Linked DNA regions of Homo sapiens: regions 1 and 3 are each linked to region 2. Evidence: fine-mapped expression QTL. A gene starts in region 2. Each other region holds a variant in brackets. All regions are shown on one strand. Distances are from middle to middle.

Region 1 (2,762 bases), 28 kb after region 2:
CCATAGACTCCTGTGCCCCAAGAGTGATTTGAAAGCAGCAGAGCGGCAGACCTTCAGAGACTGTGAGCTGGGGAAATGGTCATCTCAGTGCTAGCCAACTTGGAAAGGTGACCCAGGAGCAGAGGGGGCTCCCTAAATCACAGTGCTGCATATGACCCTAGAAGAGGGTGAGCCACAGGAACCTCTGAGGTTCAAATTGCTGCCAAGGGAAAAGCTTAATTACTTATTGAATATCTGTCTCTCCTCCCTATGAAGGCAAACACCTTATCTGGCTCACTCACCAATTGGCACTTGGCACAGTACCCAGCACACAGCGGGGCTGCATTTTATAAAAAGCAAGCAATTGAGAAACAGTGAGATATAAGACTGAGAAAACGTCACTCTTCGCACACAATTTGAAATCGTGCAAATCCTCCCCCCAAAGCAACAATCCATTAAGAATTGCATAATAGCTAAACTGATGGATCACATGAATTGTAAACACTGGGATGGTGCAAGTTAGAGTTACAAAGCTAGAGTGTGTCCTCAAGCTGGGGCAGCTGGGAGAATTTTGTCATTGGGCTTGGGAGGGCAGGGATGCTGAGCACAAGATGGAAGATCTTGTGTGTGTTTTTTCTAGAGCAAGCTCTTCCTATCAAGTCTTCTCTGTATAATGCTTAGCACCATGATGCATGCAGTTGGATGCTAATAAATGTAACTATAGCTACTCAGTGACTATCAAGGCATACTCAAGGCAAGTCATTTGACTTGTAGCTGTGACCATGGAATACTCACTGACTATGGGTAAGGTTTCCTATTCCCTTCAGTTGCTGGGAGCAAACCAGTTCCCCATACCTGGGCTCCTGTGAAAGAGTCTGTTCCCTCCCCATTCTTGCACTGCCAGCACCATGTGGCTGCAGCCTACCAGGGCAGCAACAGAGTGCATTGCAGAAGCTGCTCTCCCCTGACTAGTGTATGGAGGGAGGGACATGGCAGAGGAAGGAGCCACCTGGATTTTAGGGTCTGGAAGTCTCTCATATGTGACCTCCCAGGGCAATGTGGCAGCCAGGGTGGGCCCAAGGATGGGGACTAATGATAAACCCACATAGTGCCCTCTCAAATCACTTTCTTAGAGTTAAAGGAATTTTACATGTATTGAAGTTCCTTCTCAATAGTTTTCCTACCACTAAAGGTCTACCCCTTACCCATGACATTGGTGTTACTATTTCTTTGGGTAAGCTCAGATGC[T/C]TGGATTATCAGCAGCTTGCTTAAATCAGAAGTTCCCTGAACCTAGAGGAGAAAAGTCAAAATTAGTCAAAAGAGCATTCTTTGATCTCTAACCTGGCTGCTTCCTAATCTTTCCAAAGAGTATAAAAAATAAGCCAAAGCCTAAAGCTGGGTCTTCAATCTTGGCTCTATATTCTAAATTTCAAATCCTCTTTGATGTTGAGAAGTCTTAGACCAACAAATTGTCCTTGCATATTTAGACACCAGAGAGGAAATTTCTACACCTTACTCATAACTAGGCTGGAAATTCCCAGTTTGGAAAGCAGGGAATCCCCAGCATCCAGTAAGCTACTTTTACTCCTACACTGATGCTCAAGGGCTCAAGGCTCAGCATTCCCAGGATGGCAAGACTGTCTTCCTTTCTTAGACCATTTGTCCCATGTGCCATAAAATCTGCCTCCCAGAATGCCAGCATCAAACAAGTAATCATTATAACTATCATTTTTAGATTACCACATATTATCTCATTTAATCCTCCCAATAACCCGATAAGATGGCTGCTGACCTTATCCCTATCTTACCATGAAGGAAATTGAGGGTCAGAAAGGTTAAGCAACTTACCTAAGCTCAAGTACAAGTAGGCACAGGGATCAAGTTTTAAGCCTAAGTGTGCCTGACTCCAAACCCTGGTCTCTTAAGAAACTAAGCTGCAGTATTACTCCTGTTGCTTCCTTGCTTCTTGCCTCCATCCTTTGTTTCAAAGCTAAACAAGATTTTAATTTTCTATTAAAAACATGTAAATTACCTTCATCATCTGAATTGATGAAAGGTACAAAATAAGAATGTTTTGAAAGAAGAAAATTCATTTTTTAGGTTTACCAACTTTTCCAGGACAAATTTTCATAATGACTTTTCACAGCCTGAACTGGGAGAAAAGGTCTCTCCCATAAGGTAGAAACTTACTGCCAGATTTAAAGAGATGTCAGTCAGCTCTTCCCATGGCCTCTGGGTCCTCCCCATTCCTTTGCCCAGTGGCAGGCAGCTTGGGCCATTAGGGACTTTGCTTCTATCCTTCCCATGCCCTCTTATGTCCTAGGTGGTCACACTTCCTTTGTCTTTACAGAGGTATGGAATGCTGAGGCCCAGGGCCCAGGATCTACTATCAAGTGCCCATAGCCCCTAATGTGTCAACAAAGTGATGTGGCCCCTACTCTACTCCTTTTTTGTCAACCAGTGCAGATACTTCCAGAGCTATGCTAGAACACGGCATCGTTGCCTTGGCGTAAACTAGGGAAAACTTACAGCATCTCATCCTTCCTTTGGCACAGCCCCACGCCAGGGCAAAGGGCGTGGCAAGCAAACAGCAGGCAGATTTCAGCTCCCTGTCCCTTGGGCACACCCTTGTGTAGGGCACCTGTATTACAGTACACAGAAGCCCTAGGTACATTTTTACTGTTTGTAAAAGGCAAGTAAGAACTACAGGGTCATTCCAGGTTAAATTTCTTTTTAAGGTGATCAGTTGAGTTTTAAAGTCACTTTTGGAGCACCGTGAAGAG
Region 2 (2,762 bases):
TGAACTCCAATCATTTACACCTTCCCCCATCAGAATTTACCCTACATTTTATTATAATTGCATATAAATATGCCTTCCCTGTAACAGCAGGGACTGTGTTTCTCCACTGTATGGCCTGGCACAGTGTCCAGCACACAGCAGGCAAAGCAAGAGTTACTGCATGAGCCAGTGTCATCATCCAAACGATAGCTACCATTTCCAGAGCACCTACCGTGAGCTGACTAGTTTACCTACATTATCCTGGTGGCTTTCCCAGACCAGACCACCCAAACCAAAGCAGCCCCCCAGTCACCCTCTAGGCACATAACCCTATTTTAGTTCTCTGAATACGACTGATTGCTGTCTAACATATTTTGGTTTGTGTGCTTATTGTCTGTCACCGGTTTCCCTTCACAAGAAGGAAAGCTCCAAGAGGACAGGCATCTTATCTACCTTGTACTTGGCTCATAGCAAATAAATGAATCTAAGCCGCCCACCTCCCTGGGTGACAGAGTTGACCTGCACACAGTAGGTCTCAAAGAGTATGTTTTAAATTTTATATTTAGATTTCAAGATAATTGTGTTGAATATTTTATGGTTCATAACAAACAGAAAGGGGAGGGCAGAATAAAAATAAATAAAAGTTTAGTTACATTACCCTAGCACTGACATTGGTACGGGAATTTTTGCTGCAATAAGAAAGCCACTTCCTCTGACATAAGGTCACCCATACTTCTGGGTCTTGCCACATCCTCTTAGACAGTTCATCGTAGCTGGGCTGGCTGGGGCGGTCAGGACTCCAGACGCTCACACTAAAAGAGGGGTGGTAGTCGAGCAGTCACTCCACTCCTCTGTAGGGAGCTGGCCGCGAGTGGGTGCGCAGCAGGGTGCGCGCGGACCCGTGCAGCGCCCAGGGCGGCTGTGCGAAGCCGCCGCAGCCTGCGCGCCCAGGCGATTCTCCACCTTGGGGCTCGCCTTCCTGCCGCGTTCCTCTTCCTTCCATCCCTAAAGCGCGTACGCCCTGCAGAGTCAAACCTGGCGCATCCTCAAGCTTCCAGGGGGCAACGTGACCGAGCCCCGCATCACGTGTGCAGAGACGGCCTATAGTGTCTGAAGGATGCCACCTAGTCGCAGGCCCGGCGGCGCCACCAACAGCGACCGCGGTAGTCCAGCTCGCGCCGCGTCCCGGCCCCAGCCCGGCCCGGCCCAGCCCCGCCCCGCGCCCAGCCCCGCCCCGCCCCGCGCCCAGCCCAGCCCCCGCGGCCCGGCCCCCAGCGGCCGGCCTCCCGCGGCCCCGCCCCCGCCGCCCCAGTCCCCGCCCCTCGCGCCTTCGTTTATTCCTCCGCGCGCTGGGACAGGCTGCTTCTTCGCCAGAACCAACCGGTTGCTTGCTGTCCCAGCGGCGCCCCCTCATCACCGTCGCCATGCCCGGAGGTCTGCTTCTCGGGGACGTGGCTCCCAACTTTGAGGCCAATACCACCGTCGGCCGCATCCGTTTCCACGACTTTCTGGGAGACTCGTAAGTGGCCACCGCGTAGCCCTGTCCTGGCCTCGGTTGCGCCGGACTCGGAGGTGCCTTCCCTGTTTCTTCTCCCTGCCGTCCTCCCGGCCGCTCAGCCCCCTGCGCCGCCCTCGCCTTCCCCCGCACTGGTTCCGGCGCGCGCCAGGCCGTGTGGCCTCTGCTCAGCGTCGGCTGCGCTGCTGGGAGCTGGCACCCGTTCGGCCTGCCCTGCGCGGGCCACTCGATCCCTCCTGGCCTCCCCGCCTCCGGCGTGGCTGGGCAAGGCCACGCCAAGGTGGGGGGTGGGGAGGATAAAATTGTGTTCTGCGGGTTCTGGAAACTCACCGCCCGCGGGAGGGTTTGTTGTCCATTTAACTCGTCTTAGTAAACTGTGCAGGTAGCGTGGTCAGGCCGAGGGCGCAGGGGCGGGGCGGCATTGACGATCACTTCCCCGGACTAGTGCCCAGGGTCGCACCGCCCTCCCACCCTCCGTTCTGGAATTTGCTCCCTGGGGAGGATGGGTGTCTAAAGCCAAAGTCGGAGGACACAGCTGCTGGCTATAGGTTACAGGAAGGCCAACGTATCATCTGAGGGTGCAGTGGTATTTGCAGGCTTCTGGGCACAAAATGTGAAATTTAAAACCACTAGCTGCCAAGTAGGTGGCCGAAAGACTTTTTGTCCAGAGCCGCCTCCAATGGCCAAGATATGATTTGATAACAGCTTTAGGAAGAGCCAAGAACACTCTGCGTAGGTGTGCCTTCAGAGATTCCAGAACTTGCAACACTTGGAGGGAAGGACTTTCTGACGCTGTTCCGCTGGAGTGGCCTATTCTTGCTAGTGATGGCCGTTCCAGGCTCCAGGACACGTGTACTCCCCAACTTTGAGACTCTCTTGTTTTCCAGTGGCTTGCCCCTCACTGTCCCCTCCGCTTTCTACCTTGCTTCTAGCACATGAGCTTGCTGATGATAGCCAAATTGATGACCTGTGATCTGACTTGGCAGTTTTACCATTATGGATAGGAGTAGTAAATCGGTGTTGCCCTTTTTTTTTTTTAACAGCTCCTGAATCAGCAAACTGGAAGTTGCTTAGTTTTCATCAGAAGCATTCCAGGCATGTCTAGTTATATTATGGTTCTGGAGTACTAGTGGTCCCACTACACTGTGGGGCTCCAAGGCTTGACAACAGTTCTTCCCCAGATTATATCCTTTTTATATACAGTATCCAGGGAGACAGGCTTATGAAATTAATCAGTGATTGGACAGGGCTGTGCAGAGAACCAGGG
Region 3 (2,762 bases), 32 kb after region 2:
CATTTAAAAATTAGCAAATGTATCTAGTATTTCACAACCAGAAAATCTAAAAAAAAATCAGCTGTTTTGGTTTGATTTTAAAATGCATATACATTTTGAGTTCTGTGATTTAGAGGGAAAAAAATCTTAATTGGCTAGTTCTTTAATGGAAAAAAAAAGAAAGAAACTAAGTATTAAATAGAGATTCTCTATTTAATAATAAATACAATTTTTTTAATGTTTTATATCTGTACTTTCTCATTTATATAATGAATATGTGTTGCTTGTGAATTTAAAAAAATTTAAAGGACATTCATCTTATTATTGAGTCAAGTCTGAGTCCATACAGTTTCTACCCATTGGTCCTAATTCTCACCCCTGAAGTTTCATACTAGACTCTAAATTTGTCCCACTTCTCATGAAGATGCAAGGTAAAAGGAAAAGAGAAGAATTCCAATCCCCTTATCCCTCTGCTAAAATTTTTCTGAAAGTTATTATTGCAATAAAGTAAAAGAAACCTGACTGGCTTGTATGACACACTCATTTTTTAACCCAATATTTATTTATACCCAGTCGCTCAGTTCAGTGAATATTACTGAACTTCCAATCTTTCCCAGTTCACTTCCCCAGTTCCTGACTCACTAGCTAGTAAGGGTTCCAATAGTTACTAAATAGGATACAAATGTGAGATTGTAAATTGTGCTTGTCCAGAGAAAACTTGAACCACTACTCTTTGGAGGGGAAGTCCATGAGAGAGGCTCAGTCACCTCCACAAAGATTTTGAAAAGGCAGGAGATTTACAGACTTATATTAACATCGGCAGAGTAGGCAATAATAAATACAGACAGAGCGTTTGTTAACACATTCTGATTAACACTATGCTTGGTTCAGGGGGGGATCTACCTATTTTGAATTTGCTAAATCTACCTTCTTTTTTTTTTTAGAAATGATTGCAAGTAGCTTGGGAAAATTAGCTGTGACAAAAGGATTGACAACCTGTAGGAACTCAGGATAAGAGAGCAGTTAAAATTCTAGCAATCTCATTTTAGAAAAGCAGACACAGGGCCAGGCACAGTGGCTCACGCCTATAATCCCAGCACTTTGGGAGGCCGAGGTGAGTAGATCACTTGAGGTCAGGAGTTCAACACCAGCCTGGCCAACATGGTGAAATCCTGTCTCTACTAATAATAAAAAAAATTAGCCAGAGGTGGGGGCAGGCGCCTATAATCCCAGTTACTTGGGAGGCTGAGGCAGGAGAATTGCTTCAACCTGGGAGACAGAGGTTGTAGTGAGCTGAGACTGCACCATTGCACTCCAGCCTGGGCAACAGAGTGAGCCTCTGTCTCAAAAAAAAAAAAAATCAAACACAAATTTCCTTTCTATTTTTGTCTCAAAAATATGAAATGCATT[T/C]TGTAAAAAATACAATGCATAAAAATTCAATTTATTAATATTTTAATCACATAACTTACCTCATCAATAAGACTTGATTCAAAATACTGATAGGCAGTACTGAGAGCAAGCTTTAGCCATATTTTATATTCCAGAGATGGCCAGAAGGCATCAAAGCCTTCATATAAATCCTCCAGGGAGATAAAGCAGGCCTGAAACAAAAAGGAACCAGGCCATAGCAGCTTGATGTGGAACTAAATTACAAGACCATCAAAAAACAAGATGCCTGCAGATTTAACCTTCAGAAAAACTATCAATTCTAGCATAATTATGATACTCTTGTCATTTAGAAGCATTTGTATTGTGAAAATGGTTGTTTGCTAAGTATAAGATGATAAAATGTATGGTGTGATTAAAGCTATAGACTTTAATAAGAGACCAGAAAAATGTATATCAGTCAATAGATATAATGAAGGATATGGCTCATGAGCCCAAAGTCCAGGATTCAGGAACTAAGCCATATGAACTTATCTATTTTTATTGTCATGGTAGATAACATGAGCTCATTCACAGTATTTGTTTCCAGAGGCAAATAGTTTAGCTGAATAAAAAAGATACACTTTCAGATTCAAGTTACACGAACTTCAGTGAATTCAATTCAGCCTTATGACTAAACTCATGCCTTCTCTCCTCTTCCAAAAATGAAATGACATGAAATAGCTAAAACAACATTTCCTTCCACTCCACACACCCCTAAGACTCTGGATCCTGCTCTTTTGCATCATATAGTCTCCAAAGATTGAGAATTCTTTGGCTCATTTCTTTTTTTGTTTAATTATTTCATTGTACTTTAAGTTCCAGGATACAAGTACAGAATGCGTAGGTTTGTTACTTAGGTCTACGTGTGCCATGGTGGTTTGCTGTACCTATCAACATGTCATCTAAGTTTTAAGCCCCCCATGCATTAGCTATTTATTCTAATGCTCTCATTCCTCTCACCCCCTCAATCCCCAAACGGCCCTGGTGTGTGATGTTCCCCTCCCTGTGTCCATGTGTTCTCATTGTTCAACTCCCACTTATGAGTGAGAACATGCAGTGTTTGGTTTTCTGTTCCTGTGTAAGTTTGCTGAGGATGGCGGCTTCCAATTTCATCTATGTCCCTGCAAAGGACATGTTCTCATTCCTTTTTATGGCTGCACAGTATTCCATGGTGTGTATGTACCACATTTTCTTTATCCAGTCTATCATTGATGGGCATTTAAGTTGGTTCCATGTCTTTGCTCTTGTGAATAGTGTGGCAATAAACATACATGTGCATGTGTCTTTATAGTAGAATGATTTATATTCCTTTGGGTATTTACCCAGTAATGGGATTGCTGGGTCAAATGGTATTT

Evidence for each region.
Region 1: its variant is fine-mapped to the expression of PRDX6 in whole blood (INTERVAL, PIP above 0.99).
Region 3: its variant is fine-mapped to the expression of PRDX6 in whole blood (TOPMed, PIP above 0.99).

Annotation. Positions count from the first base shown.
Region 1 is chr1:173,504,063-173,506,824 of GRCh38, forward strand. It overlaps SLC9C2 (solute carrier family 9 member C2 (putative)), which reads right to left. Exons shown (of 28, transcript NM_178527.4): 26 at 1,185-1,269. Among named protein-coding and RNA genes, the nearest start is that of PRDX6, 28 kb to the left of the region's middle. RefSeq lists an enhancer at 748-1,947. The variant T/C (reference allele first, on the strand shown) is at 1,228.
Region 2 is chr1:173,475,995-173,478,756 of GRCh38, forward strand. PRDX6 (peroxiredoxin 6) reads left to right here and starts at 1,341. Exons shown (of 5, transcript NM_004905.3): 1 at 1,341-1,498. The coding sequence starts at 1,404. LOC100506023 (a long non-coding RNA gene) reads right to left here and starts at 1,161. Exons shown (of 3, transcript NR_037845.1): 1 at 638-1,161. RefSeq lists enhancers at 346-882, 1,380-1,539 and a silencer at 1,140-1,309.
Region 3 is chr1:173,508,120-173,510,881 of GRCh38, forward strand. It overlaps SLC9C2 (solute carrier family 9 member C2 (putative)), which reads right to left. Exons shown (of 28, transcript NM_178527.4): 24 at 1,449-1,580. Among named protein-coding and RNA genes, the nearest start is that of PRDX6, 32 kb to the left of the region's middle. The variant T/C (reference allele first, on the strand shown) is at 1,390.